4 linked regions of the Homo sapiens genome follow. The protein of the gene in region 2 binds, or shares a complex with, the protein of the main gene of each other region. Each region holds a gene or a part of one and is shown on either strand. Other genes may lie near its edges. The genes, in order: ADGRD1, GNB1, GPR21 and CRHR1. A codon is read from its position in the direction of its gene.

Evidence for each region.
Region 1: the proteins of GNB1 (region 2) and ADGRD1 are in contact, whole or in part, in a cryo-EM structure (PDB 7EPT), measured with the Homo sapiens proteins. Residues at the interface, in NP_001269468.1 of Homo sapiens: Arg52, Asp291, Val307, Ala309, Gly310, His311, Asp312, Asp333, Phe335; in NP_942122.2 of Homo sapiens: Ser593 (codon at 1,864), Val594 (codon at 1,867), Ser595 (codon at 1,870), Arg598 (codon at 1,879), His819, Lys822, Val823, Leu826.
Region 3: the proteins of GNB1 (region 2) and GPR21 are in contact, whole or in part, in a cryo-EM structure (PDB 8HJ1), measured with the Homo sapiens proteins. Residues at the interface, in NP_001269468.1 of Homo sapiens: Gln44, Arg46, Thr50, Arg52, Ala309, Gly310, His311, Asp312, Asp333, Phe335, Lys337; in NP_005285.1 of Homo sapiens: Pro57 (codon at 1,492), Leu58 (codon at 1,489), His61 (codon at 1,480), Arg313 (codon at 724), Arg317 (codon at 712), Thr324 (codon at 691).
Region 4: the proteins of GNB1 (region 2) and CRHR1 are in contact, whole or in part, in a cryo-EM structure (PDB 6PB0), measured with the Homo sapiens proteins. Residues at the interface, in NP_001269468.1 of Homo sapiens: Arg42, Arg46, Arg52, Phe292, Val307, Ala309, Gly310, His311, Asp312, Phe335; in NP_004373.2 of Homo sapiens: Arg145, Ser146, Lys376, Arg380, Asp383, Lys384, Ser386.

Annotation. Positions count from the first base shown.
Region 1 is NC_000012.12:131,103,892-131,110,962, forward strand, and holds part of ADGRD1 (adhesion G-protein coupled receptor D1 isoform 1 precursor), read left to right. Parts: intron 1-939; coding exon 940-1,043; intron 1,044-1,862; coding exon 1,863-1,974; intron 1,975-4,832; coding exon 4,833-4,986; intron 4,987-7,071. UniProt on the Homo sapiens protein: Adhesion G-protein coupled receptor (aGPCR) for androgen hormone 5alpha-dihydrotestosterone (5alpha-DHT), also named 17beta-hydroxy-5alpha-androstan-3-one, the most potent hormone among androgens. Also activated by methenolone drug.
Region 2 is NC_000001.11:1,804,040-1,811,110, forward strand, and holds part of GNB1 (guanine nucleotide-binding protein G(I)/G(S)/G(T) subunit beta-1), read right to left. Parts: intron 2,500-7,071; coding exon 2,436-2,499; intron 543-2,435; coding exon 380-542; intron 1-379. UniProt on the Homo sapiens protein: Guanine nucleotide-binding proteins (G proteins) are involved as a modulator or transducer in various transmembrane signaling systems.
Region 3 is NC_000009.12:123,029,072-123,036,226, reverse strand, and holds GPR21 (probable G-protein coupled receptor 21), read right to left. Parts: upstream 2,561-7,155; 5' UTR 2,485-2,560; intron 2,057-2,484; 5' UTR 1,661-2,056; coding exon 611-1,660; 3' UTR 562-610; downstream 1-561. UniProt on the Homo sapiens protein: Orphan receptor.
Region 4 is NC_000017.11:45,779,653-45,787,372, reverse strand, and holds the start of CRHR1 (corticotropin-releasing factor receptor 1 isoform 2 precursor), read right to left. Parts: upstream 3,054-7,720; 5' UTR 2,829-3,053; coding exon 2,796-2,828; intron 1-2,795.

The sequences.
Region 1 (7,071 bases), on a different chromosome or scaffold from region 2:
GAGCAGCTGGGAGGCTGCCCTTCCAGGCCTGTGGCTTAGGAGCCCGGAGCCTCCTGGAGCGCAGGGTCACATGTGTCTGAGCTTGAGGCCCCGACTTCAGAACCGAGGGGGCGCCGTCTGGATTGTGCGGTCGGTGAACTGCGGCTTCGGTTCTATCCTTTGTGGCCCTGCAGCCGCTTAATCCCCAGGTGTGTTCTGTTCTGCCTCATTCCCACAAGGTGTTGGGACCCAGCAGACACGGGTGCTGGCGATCACCACCGTGTCCATTTAGAGAGCTTTCCTGAGGCCCACAGTGTGCAGGCGGCAGCCATTGTGCGGGGACTGGGAGGGTTGTGGCCTCAGGCGGGGGCGGTAGCCAGCTCTTCCCTAGCACTACTTTGTGCGGGGACTGGGAGGGTCGTGGCCTCAGGCCGGGGCGGTAACCAGCTCTTCCCTAGCTGCTCCAGCACTTTATGTTTGTAAATTCATGGAGTCCTTGCGGCCACTGTGGGAATGGAGAGGGGTCATTATTTTCATTTCACAGCCGAGTGTCACATGGCCCAGATTGTCAGCCAGGACGTGGCCCAGCTGGGACTTGAACCCGGGAGGTCTGGCTCTGGGGCTGACTGTTAGTCTGCAGCCCTGTGTATTGCAGTGTAGACAGGAGGCTCAGCGCCTGCCCGGGCCAGGCAGCCACAGTCTGGAGACTGTGGCTGAGGGAGCCTCAGTGTTCTGTAGGGCACCTCGGGGCACCGGACATGCACGCACAGAACCAGGGCTGCAACCCCAGCACCGGCCTCTGTCGGTGGCAGCAACAGACATTTGGGCTGGGAGGCAGGCTTGGTGGTCAGCACCACACTCACAGGGGACCAGCTGTGCACCCACCTGGGCCCTCTGCAGCTTCAGGCTCCGATGGGGTGCCTGGGCCTGCTGCTGACGCCTCTGCTCTGCTCCCCGCAGCTTGCACGCGGACACCAGGTGGCGCTGTCGTCTATCAGCTATGTGGGCTGCTCCCTCTCCGTGCTCTGCCTGGTGGCCACGCTGGTCACCTTCGCCGTGCTGTCGTGAGTCCCCTTTTCTAATCCACCCAACAGTCTCTCGGCCCCTGCCTGCACCCAGATCTCAAGATGGAAGAGACACGGGAGAGGGGAGGGGCTGTGGAGGTAAGAGCACCAGGCTTAGCTGGAAAGGTCTGGAAAGGCCCCCAGCCCAGGCACAGGAATTCTGGTGGAACCCGAGCCAGGCAAAAGGGGATGGCCATGGGCCTGGGGACACCTCAGCCCTGTGCTCAGATATTCACTCTCGCTCCCACGTTCCTCAGCACAGGCGTGTGGTCGGCTTTGAGGGCCCGACTGTGCCCAAGAGAGATGAGAACATGCTTGGATGGGGGCTGGACAATAACCAAGTAAACAAAAGCGAGAACAAACATCTTCACTGTGATCACGCCACGAGGCAGCAGGGCAGAGAGCGAGGGGTGCAGCTAGGTCCCAGCAGTGGTCAGGAAGCTTACGCTGAGGGAGACATTTGGGCCGCCATGCGGGGACCTGGGAGAGGGTTTACTGCATGGGAACAGCTATGCAAAGGCCCCACAGCTGGAATAAGCTGGGGCTTTGAGAAGCAGGAACATGAGCTGGGAAAGAAAGGAACTCAGAGCAGAGCCATGGCCCAGGGTCAGACTGTGTAGGGCTGTGTGGGCATGGAAGGAGCTGGGGTCAGATCCAAGAGCAATAGGGAGCCATCGATGGTCCACAGCAGGGAGTGACAGCAACCCCTCTGGCTGCTCTTGGAGGAATGGATATAGGGACTTCGTGGGGCCAGGGAGCCCAGCCTGGGGGACTGGGTCGGCGCAGGGCCCAGGCCTCACACCCTGCCTCTGTCCTCAGCTCCGTGAGCACCATCCGGAACCAGCGCTACCACATCCACGCCAACCTGTCCTTCGCCGTGCTGGTGGCCCAGGTCCTGCTGCTCATTAGTTTCCGCCTCGAGCCGGGCACGGTGAGTGGGCGCAGCTCCGTGTTCCTGCGCTGTCCTTCCCTTGCCTCCTCGGATGTCACCGGGTGGCACCTTCTGCTAGCTTTTTCAACTCAAATTTCAGAACCCATCTCCCCAGACAACCAGGGCTGTGGTTTTCTCGGGGGAAGCAGAGATCGTGACGTGCATGAGCTGGTTTCTGTGCTGCACGCCAGCCTCGGGTAAAGCTGCCGCTGCCGCCACCCACTCACACTGCCTAGCACCAGCTACGCGCGAGGCACCATGACAAGGGCTTGCATCTGTGAAGCCATGTCACCCTCTAACCAGCTGTCATCCTCTCAGCCTACAGATAAAGGAATTGGGGCACAGGGCTCACAGTCCTTGGCCAAGCTGACGGCCTGGTGTGGGCAGACCAAGACTCTTATTGGCTGCAGGCTGTGCCCTTCATCAGCTGCTTGACAGCAAACAGTTGTGCCACCTCTGTTCAGCGAAGCAGACCTGCAGACCTAGATGCCATCTTTCCCTGCCCTTTGCATGGAGTGGGGGGTTCTCTGGGGCCCTAAGAAGTCTTAGACCTCACAGAAGGCAAAGAGCTGAGACTCTCTGAAGTGACCCAGCAGTGGAATGATGTGGGCTTGTAAGCTAGTTGATGGAAGAGAAAAACAGAGGGCTGCCTGCTCCATGTGTGGGAGGAAAAAGGGAGCTGGTTCTGGCAGAAGCTCTTAGGAACCCAGCAGGATAAGCCTGTGGTCTTAGGGTGCAATCAGGATTGGCCAACAGAAGATGAACGCTTTATCCCATGCCTAGCGGGTCAGCAGAGCCTCTCCTCCTCACTGCCCAGCAGAGCCCTTTGTCCCCATGCATGTCCTGGGGCTGCTGCCTATGGACAGACCCACCTTCATGTGGCAGCAAGCACCTCCCTCACAGGGCACCCCACCTCAGACTCGGGAGCATCTGAGAAGTTCCTGGATGCACCGTGGAATGGATGGGGTGTGCACTGGCCTCATGTTCTCCTGCTGGACGCTTCTCAGGCTCCGGTGTGAAACCTCCCATGAGGATTCCTTACAGTGCAGATTTTGGTTTAGGAGCTCTGGGTGGAGCTCAGAATGCTGTATTTCTATCAATCATTCAGGTGATGCTGACGCTGCCTGTTCAAGTCCATACTGGGGAGCAAGGTCCCACTGTGTGCTGGCAGCAGGAGGGGAGGCAGGTCTGCAGCAGCTCCAGGTGTCTATAATCCCAGCTGGTGGCCCTAGGGGACTGGGAGAGCATCTTTCCTCCAGAACCCTGTGTCTCAATCCCAGGGAAGGGCTCTGATGGGTCCCGCTTTCCCAGAGACCTGTGTCTGAATCCCAGGGAAGGGCTCTGATGGGTCCCGCTCTCCCAGAGACCTGTGTCTGAATCCCAGGGAAGGGCTCTGATGGGTCCTGCTTTCCCAGAGACCTGTGTCTGAATCCCAGCGAAGGGCTCTGATGGGTCCCGCTCTCCCAGAGACCTGTGGCTAAATCCCAGGGAAGGGCTCTGATGGGTCCCGCTCTCCCAGAGACCCGTGTCTAAATCGCAGGGAAGGGCTCTGATGGGTCCTGCTCTCCCAGAGACCCGTGTCTAAATCCCAGGGAAGGGCTCTGATGGGTCCCGCTCTCCCAGAGACCCGTGTCTGAATCCCAGGGAAGGGCTCTGATGGGTCCCGCTCTCCCAGAGACCTGGGTCAGAATCCCAGGGAAGGGCTCCAGTTGGTCCTGTTTGAGTGATATGCCTACAGGGTAAACCTTTGTGCCCAGATGGGAGAGGATGATTGTAATGGTTGGTCCCACCAGAGCCTCTGGGGTAGGAAGGGGCTGCTCCCCAAGGAAAAGGGGCAGCTGGTCCTGGAAGACACAGGGCCAGGGGTTGCTGAGCCAACAAAAATAATAGGTATGTCTTATTTTGTATCTAGATATAACAGATCATGATGACAAGAAACACATTTAGTGGCTTGTACATTTCTTCTCTGAGAACTAACTGCCTTGGGCGTATCTGAAGGACAGAACTTGGAGCGCCAGCAGAGCTGGGTTGTCCTGGGGTCCTTGGTTTGTGTTCCTTCCTGGGCTCTGGTTTCCTGGACCTTTTATCTAGAGCTAAGGGACACGCCCTGGCTGTTCCCAGCACCTGGACTCACAGGGAGCAGAGGAGTGGAGCCCCAGGAGGATCTGAGGCTGCACTGTGCAGGGCCCAACTCTCTCCGTCCTGGGCACCTGGGGCCTCCAGGCCCCAGGCAAGGAATGGAGAGGTTCCCAAGGCCCTGCCTTTCTGTCCCTGAGCCCTATTGAGGGGAAGCCTATGGAGCAGCATGGTCGCCTGAGCCCCTTTCAGTTCTGGGTAACTACAACTTGGAAGCTGCAGTCAATTTAGTTAGAACTAGAAGTCCCAGCATGTAGGGTTCAGCCACATGGCAGGCGGCAGGCTCCACACCTCTCTGGGAGCCACGTGGCTTCCAAAGTTCCTTGCTCCAGTCCTCACTTGAAGGGAGGGAAACTCTTCCATAGTCCCTGCCTTAGCCCCAGAATCCACCCTGATTGGACCAGGTGAGTCATGTGCCCATCCCTGAGCCAATCCTGTTGCAAGGAATGGATAGTTTTGCTGATTGGTTGGGCCTGAGTCCTGTGCCCTCTCCTGAACCAATCACCATCCCTGGGGGCAACATGGTGCTGTAATTGGCTAGCCCTGAGTCAAGCGCTACACCCAAATCCCTGGGCTTGAGCAACAGGAAGATACCCTGGGAAGAAACATGGTCACATGACCAAAAGACCACCCAGGACATGGATACTGGGAGGCTGGGATCATAGCCACGCCCAGGGCCCACCCCAGAGCTGTCTCACTTCCCATCTCTGGTTAAATCCTAGACCCCCTGCCAAGTGATGGCCGTGCTCCTACACTACTTCTTCCTGAGTGCCTTCGCATGGATGCTGGTGGAGGGGCTGCACCTCTACAGCATGGTGATCAAGGTCTTTGGGTCGGAGGACAGCAAGCACCGTTACTACTATGGGATGGGATGGGGTAGGTGGGGCAGGGCAGGTGGGATGGCGGGGCGGGAGGGACAGGAAGAGACAGGTGGGGATGGGGCAGGTAGGACAGGATGAGACAGGTGGAAGTGGGGACAGAAGGGGCAGGTGGGGATGGGGGGAGGTGGGAATGGGGTTTGATCGGATGGGACAGGGAAAGTCAGATGTGCTTTCATCTTCATATTATCCTTCTTGGTGCCTCCTAGAGACCCAAATAGGAAGGAGAATCCACTGGCTAATCAAAGGCAAAAAGTCCCCATCACTTGGAAACATTTCCAACATTCCTGACTTGGTTTATCAATTTTGGTGATCTTTTCAAAGAACCAACTTTTGGTTTGATTTTCTTTTTTGTTTTTCTATTATCCGTTTCTTTAATTTCTGCTTCAATCTTCATTATTTCCTTTCTTTTGCTTATTTTAGCTTTAGTTTCTTCTTCTTTTCCAGTGTGTCGAAGTGAAAGTTGAGGTTACTGAGTTGAGATTTTCTTTTTTAATATAGGCATGTATAGTTATATATTTCCCTCTACTCACTGCTTTAGCTGCATCCTGTATGTTTTGTGTCTTCATTTTAAATTCATCTCAAAGTATTTTCAAATTTATTTAATTTTTATTTGACCCATTGATTATTTATGTTGTTTAATTTGTACATATTCATGAGTTTCTCACTTTTTTCTATTATTGATGTCTAATTTTATTTCATTGTGGAAAGACAACATATTTTGTATGACTTCAGTCCTTTTAACTGTATTAGGGTTTGTTTTATGCCTTAGTAAGTATCTATCCTGGAAAGTGTTCCATATGCCCTTGAGAAGAATGTATATTCTGCTGTTGGATGGAGTGGTCTACAGATACCTGTTAGGCCTAAGTTGGTTTATAGTGTTGTTCAAGTCTTCTATTTCATCGCTGATCCTTTTTCTAGTTGTTCTGTCCATTACTGAAGTATTGAAGTCACCACTTGTTGTATTGTGTATTTCTCCCTTCAATTTGTTGATGTTGTTTCCTGTTGCTTGGGGTTCTGTTTATACTTACATCTTTCTGATGAGTTGACCCTTTTACATTTATAAAACATCTCTTCATCTCTAGTATTATGTTTTGTTTTAAAGTCTGTTCGTCCCATATGATTAGTAGACTCGCTCCAGCTTTCTTGCAGTTGCTGTTTGCAGAGCATATATATTTTCCATCCTTTTACTTTCCACTTATTTGTATCTTTGAACCTAAGGTATATCTCCTGTAAACAGAATACAACTGGATTTTTAAAAAATTGTCTGGCAATTTCTGCCTTTTGGCTGGGTCATTTAATCCTTTCCCATGTAATGTTATGACACATAGGGTGGATTCACATCAACAATTTTTCTCTTTGTTTTCTATATGTCTACTATCTGTTTTGTTTCTCTATTCTTCCTTTACTTCTTTCTTTTGAATTAAGTGAATATTTCCTAGTGTAACACTTTAATTCTCTTAATGATTTTTTTCACTTTTTTTTTTTGGTTATTTTCTTAGCGATTGACCTAATGCTTACTATATACATCTTAGCATATTAGAATCTATTCCAAATTTATACTAAATTATAAGATATAAACATTATTTTTATATAGGCATATTCTCTTTTCCTTTGTTCTCTGATTATTGCTATACATGTTACATCTGTATAAGGCACAATTCAATAATACATTTTTGTAACTATTTCTTTAATCTTGTATCTTTTAAAGAAGCTGGGATAAAAGGAGAGCAAGTACATATTTATAGAGTTACATTAACCTTCTGATTTCCATTTCTGGTTCTCTGTATTTTTTCCTGTGAATTTGAGTTTCCATCTGGTGGTGTTGCTTGCTATGTGTATGTATGTTTCTGTGTGTGTTAAGATTACTTTTTGGGGTCATTTGCTTTCAGCCTGGAGAACTTTCTTTGTTATTTCTTGTAAGGCATGTCTGCTAGCAACAGATTCATTTGTTGTTTATCTGGAAATCCCTTTATTTCACCTTCATTTTTAAAAAGTAGTTTTTCTAGATATAAGATTCTTTTTTGCTTTTCGTTCTTTGATTATGTCATCTCACTGCCTTCTGGCTCGATTGTTTCTCATA
Region 2 (7,071 bases):
TCCCAGCACTTTGGGAGGCTGAGGTGGGTGGATCACGAGGTTAGGAGATCGAGACCATCCTGGCTAACACGGTGAAACCCTGTCTCTACTAAAAATACAAAAAAGAAATTAGCTGGGCGTGGTGGTGGGCGCCTGTAGTCCCAGCTACTCAGGAGGCTGAGGCAGGGGAATGGCGTGAACACCCAGGAGGCGGAGCGTGCAGTGAGCCGAGATCACGCCACCGCACTCCAGCCTGGGTGACAGAGCGAGACTCCGCCTCAAAAAAAATAATTAATTAATTAATTAAAAAATGATTGATAAAAAGTGAGTATCCAAAGCATATAATGTACCCCAGGTAAACAGCTTGTGTCACTTGAAGCTTATGAACAAGGACAGGTACCTGTGTGTCCTGCCAGCTCACGACTCACGCGCACGTTCCCCTCACGAGTTTTCAGATTGTAAATGGAGCAAATGTTATCCAGGCCACCGCAGGCCACATAGTTCCCAGAAGGGGCATATGCACAGGTCATGACCCAGGAGGAGCGCAGAGGGATGGCGTGGACCTAATGACAGAAAGACAGATGATGCAAACAACTTTATGTTCAAAAACAACACTGACACCAGGATTTTCTCATCTCCAACTTTCACTGCAAAGGAGGTAACAGAACAAAATAAGAGCCAAAATTATCTAGAGAGCGATTCCCATATGTGGCCACTCAGGTGAAGCATACTTAATGAGAAGTCCAGTGCTGCACATGGGATTCAAATTCAATCCACACAGTCCAGTTTTACTGAAGTCACAACTTATGATTAGGTGGAGTCTTAACAGTAGTGCTGCCCACTCATCAAAACCACATTAGGCCGGGTGCGGTCACTCACGCCTGTAATCCCAGCACTTTGGGAGGCTAAGTCGGGCAGATCACCTGAGGTCAGGAGTTCAAGACCAGCTTAGCCAACATGGTGAAACCCCATGTCTCTACTAAATATACCAAAATTAGCTGGGCGTGATGGCGCATGCCTGTAGTTTCAGCTACTTGAGTGACTGGGGCAGGAGAATCACTTGAACCCGGGAGGCGGAGGTTGCAGTGAGCTGAGATCACGCCACTGCACTCCAGCCTGGGCAACAGAGCGAGACTCCGTCTCAAAAGAAAACAAACAGGCCGGGTGCGGTGGCTCATGCCTGTAATCCTAGCACTTTGGGAGGCTAAGGCGGGTGGATCACCTGAGGTCAGGAATTCGAGACCAGCCTGGCCTCAAATTGGTGAAACCCTGTCTGTGCTAAAATACAAAAATTAGCTGGGTGTGGTGGTGGGCGCCTGTAATCCCAGCTACTCAAGGAGGCTGAAGCAGGAGAGTCGCTTGAACCAGGGGGGTGGAGGCTGCAGTGAGCAGAGATCACGCCACTGCACTCCAGCCAGGGCGGTAAGAGCAATGCTCCGTCTCAAAAACACAAAAAAACCCACACGTATTGGAAGGAAAACACTGCATTATCCTGTCAAATGGCTATGAACTCATCTGAAAACAAAAAATTTTTTTTTCGAGATGGAGTTTCGCTCTTGTTGCCCAGGTTTGAGTGCAGTGGCGTGATCTAGGCTCACTGCAACCTCTGCCTCCTGGGCTCAAGCAATTCTCCTGCTTCAGCCTCCTGAGTAGCTGGGATTACAGGCGCCTGCCACCACTCCTGGCTAATTTTTTGTATTTTTAGTAGAGACGAGGTTTCACCATGTTGGCTAGGCTGGTCTCAAACTCCTGACCTCAGGTGATCCACCTGCTTCAGCCTCCCAAAATGCTGGAATTACAGGTGTGAGCCACGGCGCCCAGCCGAAAACAAAAGATTTTTATGGAATAACCAAAATGGACATTCCTACAATCTACCCTGCCACATCTCTCCCACTGTTTTAGATCTGCTGTAATTAATGCAATCATTTATACACATTTAGTATTCTTTAGTAAAATAAACTGAATTACATCTTTTACATACATGTTTGGACCAATGACAATACTTTTTATTCAAAACAATACACTTTGGATTAAGTCTTGAAAATAACATAAATTACACTTTAAAGTATGATGTCTTTCAGATGATCTCTTCTAAAAACTTGTAACTGAATGAAAAGTGATACTTCTGCACTCTATAAATAAAACATGAAACTTCCCAGACTCTGCTAAAACTGGAATTGAGGTCTCCTAGAAACACAGAAGGTCCTTAGCTCCCACCAGCTTGGTAAGGAGATGACGGACAACAGCACAACTGTGCCTGGTCCAGAGGAAGAGACCGTGACAGGTGGCACGTGACTCAGCTTCTATCTCACCTGCGCAACTTCACTACTAACAAACAGAGCTTGCCGCTGCTGCCTTCCCTATCCTGTATTACGTGATTTAACAAAATGAATCCAGAGCTTAAAACCCTGTTTCCTGGGTTGGTTTTTCAAGGAAGGGAATCCTCCAGTCCCTACCTTGTTGGTGGTGTAGCTGTCCCAGATGATAAGTTTACCATCCTGCGAGGCACTGACGAGAAGCCTGGAGGGACAGACAAAAGCAAACCTATCAGTACCGCACAACACAGAAAGTGTACAAGAGCAACAGACTAAAACCCAGACTCTGGTGGCTTATGTGCTCCCATGTTACATGTGCTTCAGACAAAGCCACTTATTTATAAGAAAAAAAATCTCTGGTCGGGCACAGTTGCTCACGTTTGTAATCCCAGCACTTTGGGAGGCTGAGGTGGGCAGATCACATGAGGTCAGGAGTTCAAGACCAGCCTGGCCAGCATGGCGAAACCCTGTCTCTATTAAAAATACAAAAATTAGCCGGGCATGGTAGTGCGTCTCTGTAATCCCAGCTACTCGGGAGGCTGAGGCAGAAGAATCGCTTGAACCTAGGAAGCGGAGGTTACAGTGAGCCACAATCATGCCACTGGACACCAGCCTGGGCAACAGAGTGAGACTCTGTTTCAAGAAAGAAAGAAAGAAAGGAAAGGAAGGCTCTAAATGTCAGACCAACTTCAAAGCATGAACAAAAACACTGTCACAGACCACAGTTGAGAGTGGAGATGCCTGGCCCCAACCGAATGCAGGCCACATCACCCCTGGCACCCATTCCCTTTGTCAGCTGAGACAGGCTGACATCATTTCATAAGTGTTTCTGTTTGGTTTCATTACAAATCAAATTAGAGGCTCATGTCTTTAATCCCAACACTTTGGGAGGCCAAGGTAGGTGGATCACAGGAGTTTGAGACCAGCATGGCCTCATGCTAGCATGGTAAAATCCCGTCTCCACTACAAAAACACAAAAAAATAGCTGGGTATGGTAGTGCATGCCTGTAATCCTAGCTACTCAGGAGGCTGAGGTGGGAAAACTGCTTGAACCCAGGAGGCGGGGGTTGCAGTGAGCCAAGATTGCGCCACTGCACTCTAGCCTGGGCAACAGAGCGAGATCCTGACTGAAAAAAAAAAAAAAAAAAAAAAAAAAAAAACAAACAGAAAGAACAAACCACTTTTAGACATTCCAAATTCATGAAACATTTCTCACCCAAAATACCCCATGAAATTTCCCAGACTGAGCTAAAATTGGAATCAAGGTCTCCTAGAAACCAAAGGAGGCGTTCCCTCCTCACCTGCTTGGTAAACAACAGCACCACTGCGCATGGTCCGGGAGCAGAGACCAGTAACTATCACGAATTTTTTCTTTTTTTCTTTTTTTTTTTTGAGACGGAGTCTCGCTCCGTGGCCCAGGCTGCAGTGCAGTGGCGCCATCTCGGCTCACTGCAAGCTCCGCCTCCGGGGTTCATGCCATTCTCCTGCCCCAGTCTCCCGAGTAGCTGGGACTACAGGCGCCCACCATCACGCCCAGCTAATTCTTTTTGTATTTTTAGCAGAGACAGGGTCTCACCATGTTAGCCAGGATGGTCTCGATCTCCTGACCTCGTGATCTGCCCACCTCAGCCTCCCAAAGTGCTGGGATTACAGGCGGGAGCCACCACGCCCGGCCTCTTTTTTTTGTTTTTGAGATGGAGTTTTGCTTTTGTTGCCCAGGCTGGAGTGCAATGGTGCGTCGGCTCACCGCAACCTCCACTTCCCAGATTTGAGCAATTTTCCTGCCTCAGCCTCCAAAGTAGCTGGGATTACAGACACGCGCCACCACAGCCAGCTAATTTTGTATTTTTAGTAGAGACGGGGTTTCTCCACGTTAATCAGGCTGGTCTCGAACTCCCGACCCTCAGGTGATCCGCCCACCTCGGCCTCCCAACGTTTTGGTATTACAAGCGTTGAGCCACTGCGCCCGACCATGAATTTTTTCATAACTATTTCCTTGCTCTGGCAACTGTGCTCAGTTCGGAATCCACATGTTGAAAAGGAGCTCCATACTACAAAGGAGAATATGAATAAGGAGCAAAAGAATTTCACCTTAGCAGGCAAGTAAGGTGGGTGAAAGGTAACTCCTGGGAACCACAGTTGCTTATGAGAGGTCCTAAGGAACCCTGTAGCACAGAATGCTGTTTTCAAGGAAGAGCAAGAAGGTTCCACTGTTTGATGCAGGGATATCTGTCAGTACGGTAAATGATAGTATAAGGATTTTTAATTTTAAAGTTTCTATCAAACGCAAGGTTTTTTGTTTGTTTGTTTTTGTTTGTTTGTTTGTTTGAGACAGAGTCTCGCTCTGTCACCCAGGCTGGAGTGCAGTGGTGTGATCTCAGCTCACTGCAACCTCTATCTCCTGGGTTCAAGTGATTCTCATGCCTCAGCCTCCCAAGTAGCTGGGATTACAGGTACGTGCCACCACACCTGGCTAATTTTTGTATTTTTAGTAGAGATGGGGTTTCCCCATGTTACCCAGGCTGGTCTCCAACTCCTGGCCTCAAGTGATCCGCCCACCTTGGCCTCCCAAAGTGTTGGGATTACAGACATAAGCCACAGCGCCTCAAAACACAGGTTTTAACTATTTCAGCTGTGAACATATGTGGCTTCTTAAAGCTGACCTAAAGCTGGAGTAACGCTCTCTCAAGTTTTGTTGATAACTCTGACACTTTTAATATCAAACTAGATGTTTTGATACAGGTGTCAATGAGTTTAAGAACAAATAAAAACCTTTTCACCTGCACTTTATTACAAAATTTATCACAGAACTAAAAACTAAGTGCAGGCTCCCATCCTATTATTTTTCAGATGCAATTTTTTTTTTTTTTTTTTTTTTGAGAGAGAGTCTCACTCTGTCACCCAGGCTGGAGCTCGCTGCAACCTCTGCCTCCCAGATGCAAGCAATTCTCGTGCGTCAGCCTTCCCATTAGCTGGAATTACAGGTGTGCACCACCATGCCTGGCTACTTTTTTGTATTTTTAGTAGAGACAGGGTTTTGCCATGCTGGTCTCGAACTCCTGAGCTCAATCTGCCTGCCTCGGCTGGGATTACAGGCGTAAGCCACCGCACCCAGCCTTCAGTTGCAATTCTTAAAGCAAACTTCTCAATCCAGGTTGTCATCAACATATTAAACATTTAAAATTATTTCTACGTAATGGTATCATGTTCCCACTCTAGCTTTATTTCTGCCCAGCCCTTCTGAGACTTTCTGTCGAGTATCAGAGCTGATCTAAAGCAGCTCATCCTCCTAGATTAGGAGGATCACCTTTACAGAGGTCTCCCGGTCAGAGAGCTTAATAACTGCTGACTTCCAGAGGGATTAGGGACACGTAAGCTGTCCACTGATCCTCCAGAAGGTGAGAGAAGACATGCCTCCTAGTCCCGGGTCAGGGAGCTGTTGGAAAGCTGGGTTCACGTTGCCTAGTAGTGCCTTTACCTACTCAAAAATCAATTATCTGAGGTGCCACTCACCTAGAACATAGAGGCAAGGGCCAGGAAGCAAGCTAACAGGCTCCAGGACCCTGAAAGTAGCTGTCAAAAATCAAAACACCTAATGCCCTTCATTTTACTCAAAGGAGGGAGGGTGGTGGCTCATGCCTGTAACCCCAGCACTTTGGGAGGCTGAGATAAGAGGATTGGTTAAGTCCAGGAGTTTGAAACCAACATGGGCAACAAAGGGAGACCCTGTCTCCACAAAAAAATATATATATATATTTTTTGAGATGGAGTCTCGCTCTGTCACCCAGGCTGGAGGATCTCGGCTAACTGCAAGCTCTGCCTCCTGGGTTCATGCCATTCTCCTGCCTCAGCCTCCCAAATAGCTGGGACTACAGGCACCTGCCACCGCGCCTGGCTTATTTTTTGTATTTTTAGTTGAGACAGGGTTTCATTGAGTTAGCCAGGATGGTCTCGATCTCCTGACCTCGTGATCCGCCCACCTCAGCCTCCCAAAGTGCTGGGATTACAGGCCTGAGCCACCGCGCCCGGCCCACAAAAAATATTTTTTAAAAATTAGCTGGGCACAGTGATGTGCACCTGTGGTACCAGCTACTCAGGAGGCTGAGGCAGGAGGATTGCTTGAGCACAGCAGTTCAAGGCTTCAGTAAGCTAGGATCGCACCACTGCATTCTAGCCTGGACGACAGAGTGAGACCCAGTCTCAAAAAAAAAAAAAAAAAAAAAAAGTTGCCTTTTAGTACAAATATATTGATAAACATATTACAAATGTACATCTGATACATTAATACATACATACATAACAAGTAATCATTGTGGGCCTTGCATGTAGTTTTCTTTTTTGTTTGTTTTTTTGAGACAGAGTCTCACTCTGTCACCCAGGTTGGAGTGCAGTGGTGCAATCTTGGCTCACTGCAACCTCTGCCTCCTGGGTTCAAGCGATTATCCTGCCTCAGCCTCCTGAGTAGCTGGGATTACAGGCACCCACCATGAAGCCTAGTTAACTTTTGTATTTTTGGCAGAGACAGGGTTTCACCATATTGGGCAGGCTGGTCTCAAACTCCTGACCTCAGGTGATCCACCCGCCTTAGCCTCCCAAAGTGCTGGGATTATAGGCGTGAACCACGGTGCCTGGCCTCTCATGTAGCTTTATTTGTGTTTTGTTTTGTTTTTTGAGGCAGAGTCTCCATCCGTCACCCAGGCGGGAGTGCAATGCGCATGTTTGTGGGTATATATATACATATATATATATTTTTTTTTTTTTTCTTTTTTTGAGATGG
Region 3 (7,155 bases), on a different chromosome or scaffold from region 2:
AATTAATGTTTATGTGTTCACATTATTCACCCTACTGAGAATTCTCTCAAGAGAATAAAACACAGAACATTTGGCTTTCTAAATGACAGTGTTGAAACTTGCAGTGTAGTTATGCTTTGGCATACATAAAAAGTAATTTCTAAAACCTTTTCATTTATATTTTACTATTCCGTTAGAAGAAATCAATTGCATATGAAGCCCAAATAGCTGGAAAGAGCCCAGAAAGTGACAAGAAAGTGATGACTTTTTAAAATGCTGACGCTTTTCACACTCAGGTTCAGTCATGCCAGCTGGAAAGAGGTGTTAGATATGGCTTTATTCATTTTAAATCTGAGAACTGTAGTCATTTCCAAGACATTTCAAAAATTGAGAGCAAGAGCAATTTGTCTTCATGATCTTGAGTCTTCTAATTCACAAGCACTTTTGAAAACCATTTCTACAAACTTAGAAGGTATCCATACGAATAATTTGTATGCTATTGTTTAGAGTCAAAGTATTCTGTCCCAGATTTCCTAGTGAATTAGGAATACTTAGAGATAAAATACACACACACACACACACACACACACACACACACACACACACACGGGAACCCCGTAACTGAGCCACTTCAGATATGACATCCATTAAGAGGGCCTTTGCTTCTAACTGTGTAAGGGTCGTTGGCTGTAGTCTGACTTGCACAAGAAGTACACATAGCCCCTGAGAGGCGCTTTAGTCCTCTTTGGAATACACTGTTGGAGAGACTATAAATTACACAGTTGCAGAAACTGTTACTAATAGCAAGCCAGGTGGTCAAGAAGGATGCGAAGCGGTTGCTGTGGCCAGTGGAGCTTTCCAACAAGAAGTAGATGATATATGGCAACCAGAGGATGTAAAATACACTAGTGATTCGAAACAGGACCATGGCATAGCGCTTATCAGGACAGGCCTGCACTTCCCCAGTCTCCCCACTCTGGCTGCTGAAGCGGGCTTGCCTTTCGCTGATATCCTTTGTGTGCTGTTGGCAGATGCGGAAGATGTTGAAATAGGTGAAGCAGACAATAAGGGCTGCTGGGGCATATAACATCATCACGATGAACAGGGTGAAGTAGGAGTCGGTGTGCCAGGACTCCGCACACCACTGAAACACATCTCCATGATATCCAGGTTTGCCCCAGTGGAAAAAGGAAGGCAGGAAGACCAGGGTCGAGTATAGCCAAATCAGGAAAATACACAGGCGTAGTCTCCAGGGTGTAACCAGAGTATTATAGGTTAAAGGTTTAGTAATGGCAATGTATCTATCAATGCTGATACAGGCCAGAGAAGCCATGGAGACGCTCTTCAGAACTGATACTACAAAACCAAATATCTGGCAAGTCAAGGACTCCTCTACTGGAAGGGGGTGATGGAGGAGTGATAAAGAAGGGACCACGCAGCTCACCCCAACAAAAAGGTCAGCATATGCCATAGTCTGGATAAAATAACTTGTAGTGTGATGGTTCAACAAAGGTGCACAGTGAAATACAAAAATCACAATGATGTTGCCAGAAATAATCAATACAGTTAGAAAGACAATAATCAATACTTCCAAAAGGCAAAAATTGACAGTTTCCAAATAGCCAAATGCCAAGAGGCAAAAAGGGTGGCTGCTCTGATTACCATCCAAGGTGGAGTTCATCTTGAGCTCAGGAGTGATCTGTCACTTCATGCTGCCGCTTGGCTGCTGCCAACAGTTCAAAGAAGCAGCTGCTGTCATTGCGGTCAGCTTTGCATGTGTGTAATAATGCCAGAGGAGCCTTACTCCCCAAGCTCCTGATGCTGCTGCTCTGGTGCATTGCCTGCAGTGCAATTCCCCTTTAAATCCTTCCTGGAATAAGGAGAGCCAGCAGCAGTTGTCTGGCCAGTCCCAGACGCGGCCATAGTGCCAGGTTCACCATACACATAGCACCAGGGGAGCAAGGTAAACTCTGGGGAGAACGTCTTCAGGCCAAGTGAGGGTAGGGGGAAAGGGTAGAAGAGAAGGGAAGAAGATTAGGAGCTTCAGCAGGAGTTGTAATGAGTCTCCTCTGAACAGCTGATAGAAGAAAAGGAGAGAGCATTTTACATTTCACATCCAATGCCCTAATCAAAGAACCTGGCTAGCTCAGGCTGGCATCATCCCTCCCGCTCCACCCCTACTGGCACCACTATTCACGGCTACCCTCAATAGCACCCCACACAACTGATCTGTACTGTATAGAGGAGCAGCAGCAACATCAAGCTTTCAAGATCAGCATAAAACAAAACCAATCACAGTCAGATTAATTTACCCCCATTTCCTTTCATTTGAGACGGGGGAGAAAAGGAATTTGCTTATAATATTTAGGAAAACCTTTCACTACAATTACCACTAATAAAATTAGCCAAGATAATTTACTTTCTTCATTGATTCCAATATAATATTTTGCCTCTTTGAAAACATTTCAACAGAATTTACTGTTTAGTTCAATTTCAGAATGTTACCTGTAATTCTGCATGCTGCAATCCAAACAAAAGCCACAATACATCCTTAGCAGAAAGCCTTGCAAAGCAGGAATGTGCTTCAACCCGCGTACTGCAGAACTAAGACACGGAGGGAGGAGATAAAGGAGTAGGAGGGGAAACAGGGAGAAGAGGGGGCTTGGGAAAAGGAAGAAAGGGGGAGGGGAAAGAAAAAGCCTGTACGTGCACACACTCTGGCATCTTTAGCAACTAATTGGAATTCATCGTCAGAGAGGTGCCCCGATTTCCAGACTGCACAGTGTGGGAATGGCTTGCTATGCCTGCAGTGCACCATTTGAAGGCTGTTTCCTCGTCTGTCTGGAATCCCCCTTTTAGTAGATAAGCAGAATTCAGGGTGCTAGCAAGGAGAAGGGGTAGTAACAGAACAGGGTGTCAGGAATTAGACTGAAACACACTACCAGAGGGGTAATTTCTATTTTCTCACGGCATTTTCCCAAAGAACAAAGAGCAATATTAAAGAAAGGAAGTATGTTAACTTCCTTTAAGTGTATGGCGTATGGCAACTGAGAATCATAATTCAGCTGCACAAGAAGTTCTAGCTAGAAGGCTATTCACCATTAATTTTGTCTCTCATGATTCACTGAATATTGGCCAAGAAACTTTAAGATCACTTTTTCAAGAGAAAAATAAAGTATCTCCCATTCTGAATACTACACAAATAGCACAGATAAATTACACTGTTCCCATATTTGACACTACGCTATAATTTTGAGATGCATTTCTTGCTTCTAATTTGCTGAGCAGTAAACAAGAATACAAACAGAAGATAGAAAAGTAAATGTACCTTCTTCTACTCAGGCATGGATATTACAGGAAGTTTCATGGTACAAATAAGCCTTTGTATCTTAGAATATACAATCTTGCTTCTGCCTATTTAAAACAATGCAAACTGTATCATATTATATTGTGGTTTTCCTGGTAATGTCATAAATGATGACAATTTTCAGCTAACAGAGTTGGGTGCTATGAAAATGTGTAATTTTAGTATCTTTATTTAGAAGGATTAATTGAAAGTATCCAGCAGAATAAAAGACAATAAACAAATGCCGGCATTTGAAAGCATTCCAAGAGGTAGGCAACTGAGTAAAAACATGTGATCCAACTTTCATTTTTATTCATTTTATACACATGCTTTCTAATTACAGACAAATGGCCACCCATAATCAGAATGCGATGAATTACATTTTAAATCTGAAGCAGCAGCAGTTGTCTGGCCAGTCCCAGACGCGGCCATAGCCCCAAAATAAAAAACCTATTTAACCGTAATCCTGATAGTAATATTTGACAGGTCTTATTGGGAAACAGAGCGAAGTGTGTGGCACAGTAAAAAGACCAATAGCATCGAAGGAACAATAATCAGGTTCAAATTCTTGCTCTAATATTACTTATCCTCTCTTAAGCCTCTGTTTCATCATCTGTAAAATGAGAACAACACTCCTTACTTCACAGGGTTGTTGAGAAATAAAGTATATAAAAAAGGCTTACCAACACCTAGCACAGAGGGGGTATATAACTTTACTCACTTTCTGCTCCTACAACTAAAGTAGCCTTCCTTAAGAGCCAGTGTTTTCCTGCCCATCATGTTGAAATGCTTAAGGCTGGGCTCCTCTGAATCCTGAAGGGCCTGCTCTTACTGAGGCTATACAGTTCTAGGTCATACAACAGCTATCTGAATACAGTGCTGTCACACATTACTCAAATACATTGAGGCTATGCATATACAAAGCACTGAAGGTAGCTGAAAAGAAGGAATGATGACATGGCGTCAATTATTCCCTCAACATAAATAATTTCTCTGCCTAGGTCTCCAGCCCTGACTTCACTCCTAAGCTCCCTTTTCCATCTACAATTTGCCTGCTAGTCACACATTTTCCACCAGTAGATGGAAGATGTCCTGTAGATGTCCTGTAGAGATTTCAACCACAGCATGTCTAAAATCAAAAACCTTTTTCCCACCAAATAAGCCTCTGTATTTTTCCAACATTTTCCCAGGCACTCCGGTATGAAACTTAGGAATCAATCACCTTGACCACTCTCTCCCTCAAAGCACTTAGTTCTGAGTCACCAAGTCCTGAAAATGTATTTCCACAATAGTTCTCAAATGCATTTCCTCCTTTCAATTTTTAATACACTTACCATAGAAGATGATTACCACCTAAACTTACAGTTTTGTTCATTTTTCTAATTTTTTCTTTTCTGTCTGGTTAAATATCCAAAATGTACATTTTATTATTGTACCCCATTGTTCAAGAGTCAATGGCTCCTTTACTGCCTTTCTAGTCTGATCTCAACTGTTTTACTTCCCCCAAATAACCTGCCCTCCAGCCAAATCAGATTACTTCTATACACTTGCCATAGACTTTATTTTTAAACCATATTTACTGAGCACCTTAATAAATACGGAATAAAGGAGTGATTTTTGAGAGTTACTGCTGTATTTCAATAAACAGAAAAAGTGTTCACCAAAGTCAAAAGTCTAGGCTTTTCTACTACTACTTGTGAATTTGGGCATGAAACTTATTCTCTCTGTGGTTTCCCATGTATAAAACAAGACAGTTACGCTGATAAAAACAGACAATACAATGGCTGAAAATTTGAAAGAATTCAAAATTTATAAAATTGCAACAAAACTACAAGCTGTTACATTACTGCCATTAGTACAGTAACAGTTCTTTCAACTTTGTTTCTATTTTAGTGAAACCACTCTAGGAGCTAAAATCAAAATATTCATTTAAGAAACTTTAAAAAAAAAAGACTAATAGCCACATTTAACTGAATCAATCAGGAATTAAATGTTTTGCTTTGGATTAAAGAAAAACATTTTCTTCAAAAGACACAATTTATTAACAACTTGGGGAGGCTCTATAAATTTGTATCCTTACAGAAATCCACATGTACATTTGGTCTTTAACCATAACATAGACTCATTCTAGTGTTCCATACCACTCTAGGAAGACTATAGTTAATACTATGTAGTTTCAAATAGCTAGAAGGAGGTTACTGAATGTTCCCAACACAGAGAAATGATAAATGTTGATAAATGTTAGAGATGATGGGTATGTGCACAATTACCATGATCTGATCAGTATATACTATATGTATCAAAACATCCTTATATACCTCATAAGTATGTATGTTATATGCTGATTAAAAAATACAATAAAAAATAAAATAATGCAGTCTCATGATATATTCTCTCTATATTTACTTTGAAGGCTGAGTAACTTTCTATATATATATGACTAAAAGGAAATACATTAAAAATCAACACTATTATTGGATGGTGGGATAACATTCATTAAAAAATCTTTCTTCTTTATAGCTTTCTATATTTTCTGAATTTTCCAATTTCTATATACTCTCAGAACCATATTGATTTAGCAAGATAGAATGATGCTGGGTTGAAGTTGTCTACTTCATGGGGCTCTGTTCCACTTGTTCTTATGCCATCAGAGCAACATTCCTTCAGACAGTCTTTGGTACTCAATCTAACTCAAAATGGACTCCCAAAATGTCAGTTAAAACCTCTTACAGAACAAGAATATAATTACGAACTTACCGATACTTAACCATTTCATTGCTAGCTAAATACTTTCTGACCTGCAAACACGCCAATTTCTATATGGTTCAACCTAATGAAATTAAAACAACTTTAAAAGCCAAAATAATTAAAATAACAAAATGACAGGCTTAAAAAGAAAAGCAGAACGAGAAATGAAATGTAACAAAAAAAGGAAAAGACCTGTTCAAATTATATTTCTTTTTCTCCCAACCTATTCAGAGACTTAACTACTTGTAGATGATAAATTATCTCAGTTCTTCAAATTCCTAAGCTTCACCTCTGGGCATTAGTGTCAACTACCACTTATTATTTGGTAAAAATGAGCTTCACTTTTTGTCTGACATCTTAGCAAGGCTGCAGTGTTCGCCACTGCTCTCCGAGCTTCACGATGCCACCCAAGGACTACAAGAAGAAGACAGACACTGGAAAGTCAGCCAAGAAAGACAAAGACCCAGTGAACAAACCCGGGGGCAAGGCCAAAAAGAAGAAATGGTCCAAAGGCAAAGTTAGGGACAAGCTCAATACCTTGTCTTGTTTGACAAAGCTACATATGACAAACTCTGTAAGGAAGTTCCCAACTATAAACTTATAACTCCAGTTGTGGTCTCTAAGAGACTGAAGATTTGAGGTTCCCTGGCCAGGGCAGCCCTTCTGGAGCTCCTTAGTAAAGGACTTATCAAACTGGTTTCAAAGCACAGAGCTCAAGTAATTTACACCAGAAATACCAAGGGCAGAGATGCTCCAGCTGCTGGTGAAGATGCATGAACAGGTCCAAGCAACTCTACATTTGGAAAAATAAAACTTTATTAAGTAAAAAAAAAAAATGAGCTTTAAACATTGATTAATTAACATATTATTTTAGTGCAGCTGATGTGAGTTTATTTATGTAACTGTCATTCCAAAAATGATTTGAGATACTTTGACTCATCTTTTATTCCTCCCTCGCCCTCATCTCCCACATTCATTCAGTCATCAAGTGAGTGCCAAGGACTCTACCTCTGAAATCCTCTTAAATAGCATCTTTTTCCCCATCCCTTTGCCACTACACCCCAATCCAAGTTGAAATTATC
Region 4 (7,720 bases), on a different chromosome or scaffold from region 2:
GACCCATGTTTACAGCCACACTCCATCTCCCTACGAGGAGATGCAGTGGGTGTGTGGCTGACTCCGAGGTGCTCAGGCCCCTGCCCCTCCCTGGGGATAGAGACAATGTCTTGTCTGTCTTCTCCTGACTCATGGCCACTTGTACACACATCGTCTCTCCCCACTCACACACACACTTTCACACACCCTGTCTCTCCCCATTCACACACATTTTCCCCCAGGACTCTGTAACTGTTATAGTGTGAGGCCCACAATATAGGCCCCAGAGTGGACCCTTTCCCAACACTGGCTGACTTGTTGGGGATGGAGCTGGATTTGGGATTAACCCTAAATCCCCTAGATTTGTACTCTCATGCTGACAAAACTACCTGAGCTCTCATCTGGCTGAGCTCTAGAGTGAGATTTAGGTGGCTTCGAATATTTTCTGGTAATGGCCGGGCATGGTGGCTCATGCCTGTAATCCTAGCACTTTGGGAGGCCGAGGCTGGCTGATCGCTTGAGCCCAGGAGTTTGAGACCAGCCAGGGCAATATGGGGAAACCCCATCTCTACAAAAAATACAAAGATTAGCTGGGTGTGGTGGTGCATGCCTGTGGTCCCAGCTATTCTGGAGGCTGGGGTGGGAGGATCACCAGAGCCTAGGGAGGTTGAGGCTTCAGTGAGCCATGATCACACCATTACACTCCAACCTGGGCGACAGAGTGGGACCCTGTCTTGAAAAAAAAAAAAAAAAAAAAGGATATTTTCTGGTAAAAGCAAACAAAACAAAGCCTTTTATCAGAGTGTCTGGGTTTGAATTCTGACTTCACTACTCACTGGCTGTGTGACCTTGAACCAGTTACTTAGCCTCTCTGTGTCTCAGGAATAATTCCTACTTCCTAGGGCTGTTAGGAGGACTAAATGACTTAATATTTGCAAAGCAGGTAGAATAATGCCCAGTGAATTGTACATGCTACATAAATAAAAGAAGAAAAGCAACTATTTAATTGTAACCAACGTTTGAAACCAGCATTCGCTGGCCATTCACTCACTGCCCCACATTCATCTGGAATTTATTGAATGCCTACTGAGTTTATTAGGCCAGGCATAAAGGGCAAACACCCCACCATCTAGTAGGAACAAAGGAAATAAAAAGACTTTTTTAAGGAAAACATGATCATTCTAAACAGAGATTTGCACACAATTCTATGAAAGGCCAGAAAAAGAACATTGATCTATTTCCGCGTAAACCTGAAAAAAAAAAAAAGAAAAGAAAACACCCGCAGTTCAGTTCTTTGAATCCATTTAAAAGACTGAATTTGGTCTAACTGGTTTGTGCATTTAGACCAGGCTTCGGTACACGCGAGCCTTTTGGAAACTATTCCCATTCAGTGCCAACTACTCGACCTCTCTGGATGTTTTTCTTCTACCTTCCTCACCTGTCTGTCTCCTCGAACGCCCAGAAAATAATCTGAGTTCATCCCTAGCCCTCAGGTAACGGATGGGGGAGGGGATGTGGGTTCAGTAAGACCAACCCTTGATCATTTTAAGAATCAATTTATAAATATTTGGGGAGGGGCAGGATTAGAGAAAAATCTCAGTAACTTGTAACGTCTCAACTAAGGAAGCAGCAGCTGCTGCATTTAAAAATCTTGGTGGTTTAACTCAAACCACTTGGTAAGCCGGTATACGTACAGTTGGTTTAATAACTGATGGAAAAATGAAATTCCGCCAATCCGCACCCCTCCCCCAAATCCACCGAAGTCTCTTGAATGTAATCGCTCTGAATGCCCTGAGCCGGGTCAAGCTGGTGTCTATGTTTGTGGCTGGAGCGGACCCTGCGGAGTCCCGAGCCCCGGGTGAGGCGATGCCCAGACTGGCGCGAAGCGGGGTGTCCCGGCAGCAGCGCAGAGGCCCACCCGCCTCTCCGGCCGGCTGCAGCGGGCGCGCCTATACCCTGCAAAACCAAAACGCTCTGGAAAGCGCTTGGGGCTGCAAGTGACGCCTGACACGAGCGGCGGGCCGGACTGCCGGCCTCCCGGCCCTTCCCTGGCTCACACAACCCGCGGGCCGCCCCCACCGCCCACGAACTTCAGCGGGCAGACGCTGGACGTGCGGTCTGGCTACTTTCCTAAACTCCAGCGCCCGATCCGCGTCGCAGGGTCGGCCGCGCAGCGCGGGGATCGCGGGTGCCCAGGCTCGGAGAACGAGCGTCGCGCTCCCAGCCGCGGTCGGGGAACAGGAACTGCCGCCAGAGGCACCGTCTCCTCCCCCGAGACTGCGATATTGATCAAGGGCTCGCAGGCGCGGGCGGCATTCATCTCTCCGGACTCGCAGCTCGCCGCGGAGGGGAAGGGGCAGGACGCGCTCCCAAGACTAGGGCGGGGGCGTGCGGAGTCGGGGAGCTGTTTGGGGGCGCTGGGGCGAGGTGGGAACCCCGCTTCAGAGTCTCCAGTCCCGGGGCCGAGGTCTGCAGGAAGGGCGTGGGAGGTGGAACCTCCCCTCCCCTAGGCGTCTGCCCGAGAGCCTAGAGCGATTCTTGGCGCGGAGCCGGCTACCCGGGTGGGCGGACCCCCTCCTCCGCCAACATCCCGGCGGCTTCGCCACGATTTCTTTTCTCACCTGAGTCTCCCCCTGCCTACCCAACCCTGGCTCCAAAGGTCCAGAGAGTTAGGCTGCCCCGGAGCCCAGCCTTCCCCGACCTAAGCACGGCTCTCCCAGCGCCCCCGCCCCCATCACACCCACAGCCCAGCCCCGTCCCGCGTCCGCCAGGGGCCGGGGGCGCCAGCGCTCGAGGGATGGCCGGCGGGCTGTTACCTTGACGAGACGGAGCTGCGGGTGCCCTCCCATCCTCGGGCTCGCTCGGCTACCGTCCTGAATGCCCGGGTCCTACGGACATCCCAGAGGGACCGGCGGGCGGCTGCGGGCTCGGGCGGCACGGGGTGGGCGGCCGGGCTCCTCGGTCGCTGCCTGGTGAGGAGATGCCCGGCTCGGCGCTTCCCGGCCCCGCGGCCCGGCCCGGCCCGGCCCGGCTCTCGCTCGCCCCTTCCCGGGGAAGTCTGGCCGCCGTTTCCCGACGCAGCCCGGCCCGCGGCCGCCTCTTGCCGGCCTCGCCCCCGCCACCTCCCCCACGGTCCGCGCCGCTCCTCGCCTCGGCTCCCCGCCCCCTCGCCCAGCTCGTCCCCTCCCCTTCCTCCCCCTCCCTCTCCCCTCCGCTCCCCTTCGGTCCCTCCTCCGCGCCTCGCCCCTCGGCTCCCTCCCAGCTCCTCCTCGCCTCCTCCGTTCCCTCCCCTTCCCCCGGCCCGCTCTCTGTGTCCCGCCGCCAGGATCCCCTTTCCCTGCGCCCGGGGTTTGCGGCAGTCCTCGGGGCGCGCTGGCAGCAGTGGCGGCCGCCGCAGCCCGGGGAGAAGCCGGGAATGGGGGAAGGGGGCCGCGGTAAAGGATCAGCCTCCCGCCCGGCCGAGGTCGGGGCCTGGGAAGTCCCAGGGATCTGGGGTGACTTGGGCCAGGGTGCTCAGGTGAATTTATGAGGGCGAGGCTATTGGGGGCTAGGGAACAGGGCGGTCCCTACTGAGCGGAGCCGCCGCGGAACCCAGTGAGGCTGCGACCTGCGTTTGGGCAGTTCCCGCCCTGCGGCTGGCTAGGAGGAGCTCCTCGCCGCCCCCATTCCAGCCGCGCCGGGCGCTGGGCCCGACCCCCAGCACCTTTGGCACTGATGTGCCTGGTGCGCGCTGAGACGCGAACGCTCTGCAAGATGAGCCCTTATTCATTCGTTCCTTCTTTCCTTCATTTGTTCATCTTACAAACTGAGTGCCTGGCCACTTTGGTTCAGGCAAGAGGCTGGATCTGGGAACCCTTTGGACCTGGGAGCCCCAGGATGAAAGGGAGACGGCGGTGCCCTGCAGGACAAGCGGGCACTGAACGCTGCCCAGGGGAAAGCCGGGCGCGCATTGCGTTGCAGCGCGGCGAACGCTGCTAGGAGCCCGCGGGCAGGGCGTGGGGAGGACACAGCGCCCCCTCCCGGCCGGCCGAGCCCTCTGGGCAGCGGTGGGCCTCCCCGCCAGACCCCGGGGCCGTCTTCTGAATTGGCTTCGGAGCTCCCCATCCCAGGAAGCAACTCCCAGCCCTTCCAGATGAACAGAACTTTTGACTTCCTCTTCACTCTTCCTCTCTCCTACCAGAGCTGAAAAGGGAGAAACTGGGAGGTAGAGAAATCTTCACTCCACCCGCAGAGCCTAGGCCGCCTGGCCAATGCAGCCCCTATTGGGTACACCAGAGCACCTGGGGCGGCGGGCAGTCGGCTTTGAAATCAAACTGAACCCACCTGCCCTGCACCCTGTGCCCTGCCGTGCCCACCCTACTCCTCCCTCCTGCCCTCTTCTCAGCACACTGGGCAAGAGCCAGCGTGTTCATGGGTCCACTGGCCTTCATTTGGAGCTGGAGTTATTTTAGAAGATCGTAAGATCCAACACACACAGTTTACTGGTGAGAAAATGGAGGCACACAGAGGGTAAGCCTAGTCCTCCTTCACCTCATTCCCAGCTCACAGTGCCTGGAGGGCTGGGCCCTAAAGGGGCCTGGGACACTGAAGTGGGGAGGGGCATTGCCCAGGAAGCCAGCTGCTCACATGGCTTATCCACACACCTGGCACTTTCCAGGTGAAGCACACAGTCCCGAGTCTTGCAAAACCCCCATTAGGTTAGTGCTCCGGAGCTGGCTGTGCCGAGTTGGGCCCTGACTTGCCCCAGCCAACCCCAGAAGGGATGGACATGCTAAGCAGATGGACAACTAACTGTTACCAACAACAGTTAAGTGCGGGGCAGTCTGATGTGCAGGTTCTGGAGTCAGATGGCCTGAGTTTGAATCTTGGCTTTTCCACTTACAAGCTGTATAAACTTGGAGAGTTATTTAACAATGCCTCAATTTTCTCATCTATAAAATCGGGGTAGAAACGCTACTTCTGAGGGTGGTTGGGGAGTTTGAAGGAGTTGGTATTTGTAAAGAGCTTGGAACGGAGCCTGGCACATAGTGAGAGCTTAATGAGGGTTAGCTGTAGTCACCAATACTATGATCATCATCATCATCACGATGGAGTGGACTGGATGCTCAAGTGTGAGGGGTGGCTTGGTCCCACCCTCTAGGCAGTTCTTTGTGGGGAGCAGAATTCTTGATCAGAAATTCACCAGCAGCAGTAGGCTGTGGAATCAGAGGAGAGGAAGCCGGTTGGTCCTCTGGTAGCTTTGCCCAGGCCCAGCCAAGGCCTTGCTCCCTCCCTGGTCCCACCTTGGAGCACACTCTCTAAGGACTAGACGGCTCCAGCTTCTGTGTTTCTCTCTGCTTAATAAACACCATCAAATTTTGCCTCTCTGAGCCCCATTATCCTCCCCTTGACATGATCTTTAAATATGCTAATGCCATTGATTGGACTGCAATCAAGTCTTGCTCTTCCTGACTTTTTTGCCCAGGAGTCAGACCTTCTCGCTTTCTGAAGTGGCGTCTACAGATAGCTCATTTCATCCTGTCTGTGTTGATTTCACTGACTTAACCTCCACCCCACCACATCCCGCTGACGGACAGGTCAGGGGAGGAGGCTTCTGCCTAATTCCTCGACCTACTTATTTATAGTTTTGGCCTTGGCAGCCTCAGGGGGGTTATGAAAGTTTGGCGTTTAACATTCCTTCTGTAAAAAGGTTCAATATCCCCTTTCATTTGTCCTGAAACTACTTCCTTTCACCTTCAAGGGCCTGGCTCTCATCTGCTGGGCTTGGTGAAGGTGCTAGTGTCTGCCCTGTCCCTCCCTCCTACACCCTTCCTTCCCTCAGCCCCAGCCAGAGCAGCCTCTGCACACCCTCCTCAGGATAGGCTCCTACTCCATTCCAGCATTCTTTTCCCAGGATGGCCTTTTCCAAACTCTCTTCTCATCCCATCCCTCCCTTGCCTTCTCACCCCTTCCTGTCCAGCCAGCAGCAGAATCAGCTTTCATTCATTTAATCTGCCAGATTTGGAAGACAGGAGAAATGTGAGGATTCCAAACAGGAATAAAAGACAATCACATGTCCTTCCCAACAGTAGGAGAGACAGATTTGATGTAATGATGGGTGAGACCCAGGGAGGCAGGGCTGAATAGGCACTTCCTACCTGTGGGGTTCCACTGGCTTAACCATCCCCGGGAGGTTGCTGGTCTGGAACCATACTTCTCAGACAACTGTGGCAAAGAACTGGTTCTGTATTTTAAAATTTCTAATCTGTCACAGGCCAATGCGATTGCAAAACACTGCGGGAATGAATTATTAGAAAAATGCAATAAAAGGCCAGATGTGGTGGCTCATTGCCTGTAATCCCAGTACTTTGGGAGGCCAAGGCAGGTGGATCACTTGAGGTCAGGAGTTTGAGACTAGCCTGGCCAACATGGTGAAACCCTATCCCTACTAAAAGTACAAAAATTAGCCGGGCATAGTGGCACGAGCCTGTAATCCCAGCTACTTGGGAGGCTGAGGCAGGAGAATCGCTGGAACCTGGGAGGAGGAGGTTGCAGTGAACCCAGATCCTGCCACAGCACTCCAGCCTGGGCAACAGAGTGAGACTCAGTCAAAAAAAAAAAGAAAAAAAGAAAGAAAGAAAGAAAGAAAAAAAGACAAAATGAAAGCCCTGTTTTAAACACTAGCACATCAAATGGACATAAAACTATTCTGTCTAATGGCTTAAAAATGTCAAAATGTAGCTAGGTGCAGTGGCTCACACCTGTAATCCCAGCACTTTGGGAGGCTGAGAAGGGTGGATCACCTGAAGTCAGGAGTTTGAAACCAGCCACCGCACCCGGCCCAACCTCACCAGACTCCCCTCACGCGGTTGCCTCCTGTGTGCCTCTGCCTTGGAATGCCCCTCCCCATTATGCCTTCTTCAAGGCTCAGAACAAACATCACCTCCTGCATAGAGCTTTCCAGAACCCGAGAAGTTAGCATGAATGTTTCTGTTGAGTCCCTTGACTCTCTGCCAGTGATGTGGCTGAGGCGTGAGCTGTGGATCAAAGTGCTTGGGTCACCACCTCTGCCCTACCACTGCTCTCTAGGACCTTGGGGAGTTGCTTAACTTCAATAAGCCTCAGTTCCCCCTGAAAAATAGGATGATAGCAATAGTTGTGGAGATTAAATATGAGCCATGGGTCGGGTGCCATGGCTCACGCCTATAATCCCAGCACTTTGGGAGGCCCAGGCAGGCAGATCACCTGAGGTTGGGAGTTCGAGACCAGCCTGACCAACATGGAGAAACCCCATCTCTACTAAAAATATAAAATTAGCTGGGCATGGTGGCGCATGCCTGTAATCCCAGCTACTTGGGAGGCTGAGGCAGGAGAATCGCTTGAACCCAGGAGGCGTAGGTTGTAGTGCGCTGAGATCACGCCATTGCACACCAGCCTGGGTGACAAGAGCAAAACTCTCACTCCAAAAAAAAAAAAAAAAAAAAAAAAGTCTAAATGCTTATGCTCAATTTCTGCACTTACCAGGTCATAAACTGGCAACACAGTTTGCAGACAGGTGCCGGTCTGTAGATCATGCTTGGAGTAGCACTGGTCTGGAATGTTTGTGAAGCATGAGGCTAGGAAAGTGGCCTCTTTAAAATCCCATGAACATTGGGGGATATTGTATTAATTACTCCATTCATCTGTGCATTCATTCAACAAACATTTAATGAGGAGCAACTAGGTACCAGTCACTGTTGGACACTGAGGCTAATAAAGATAA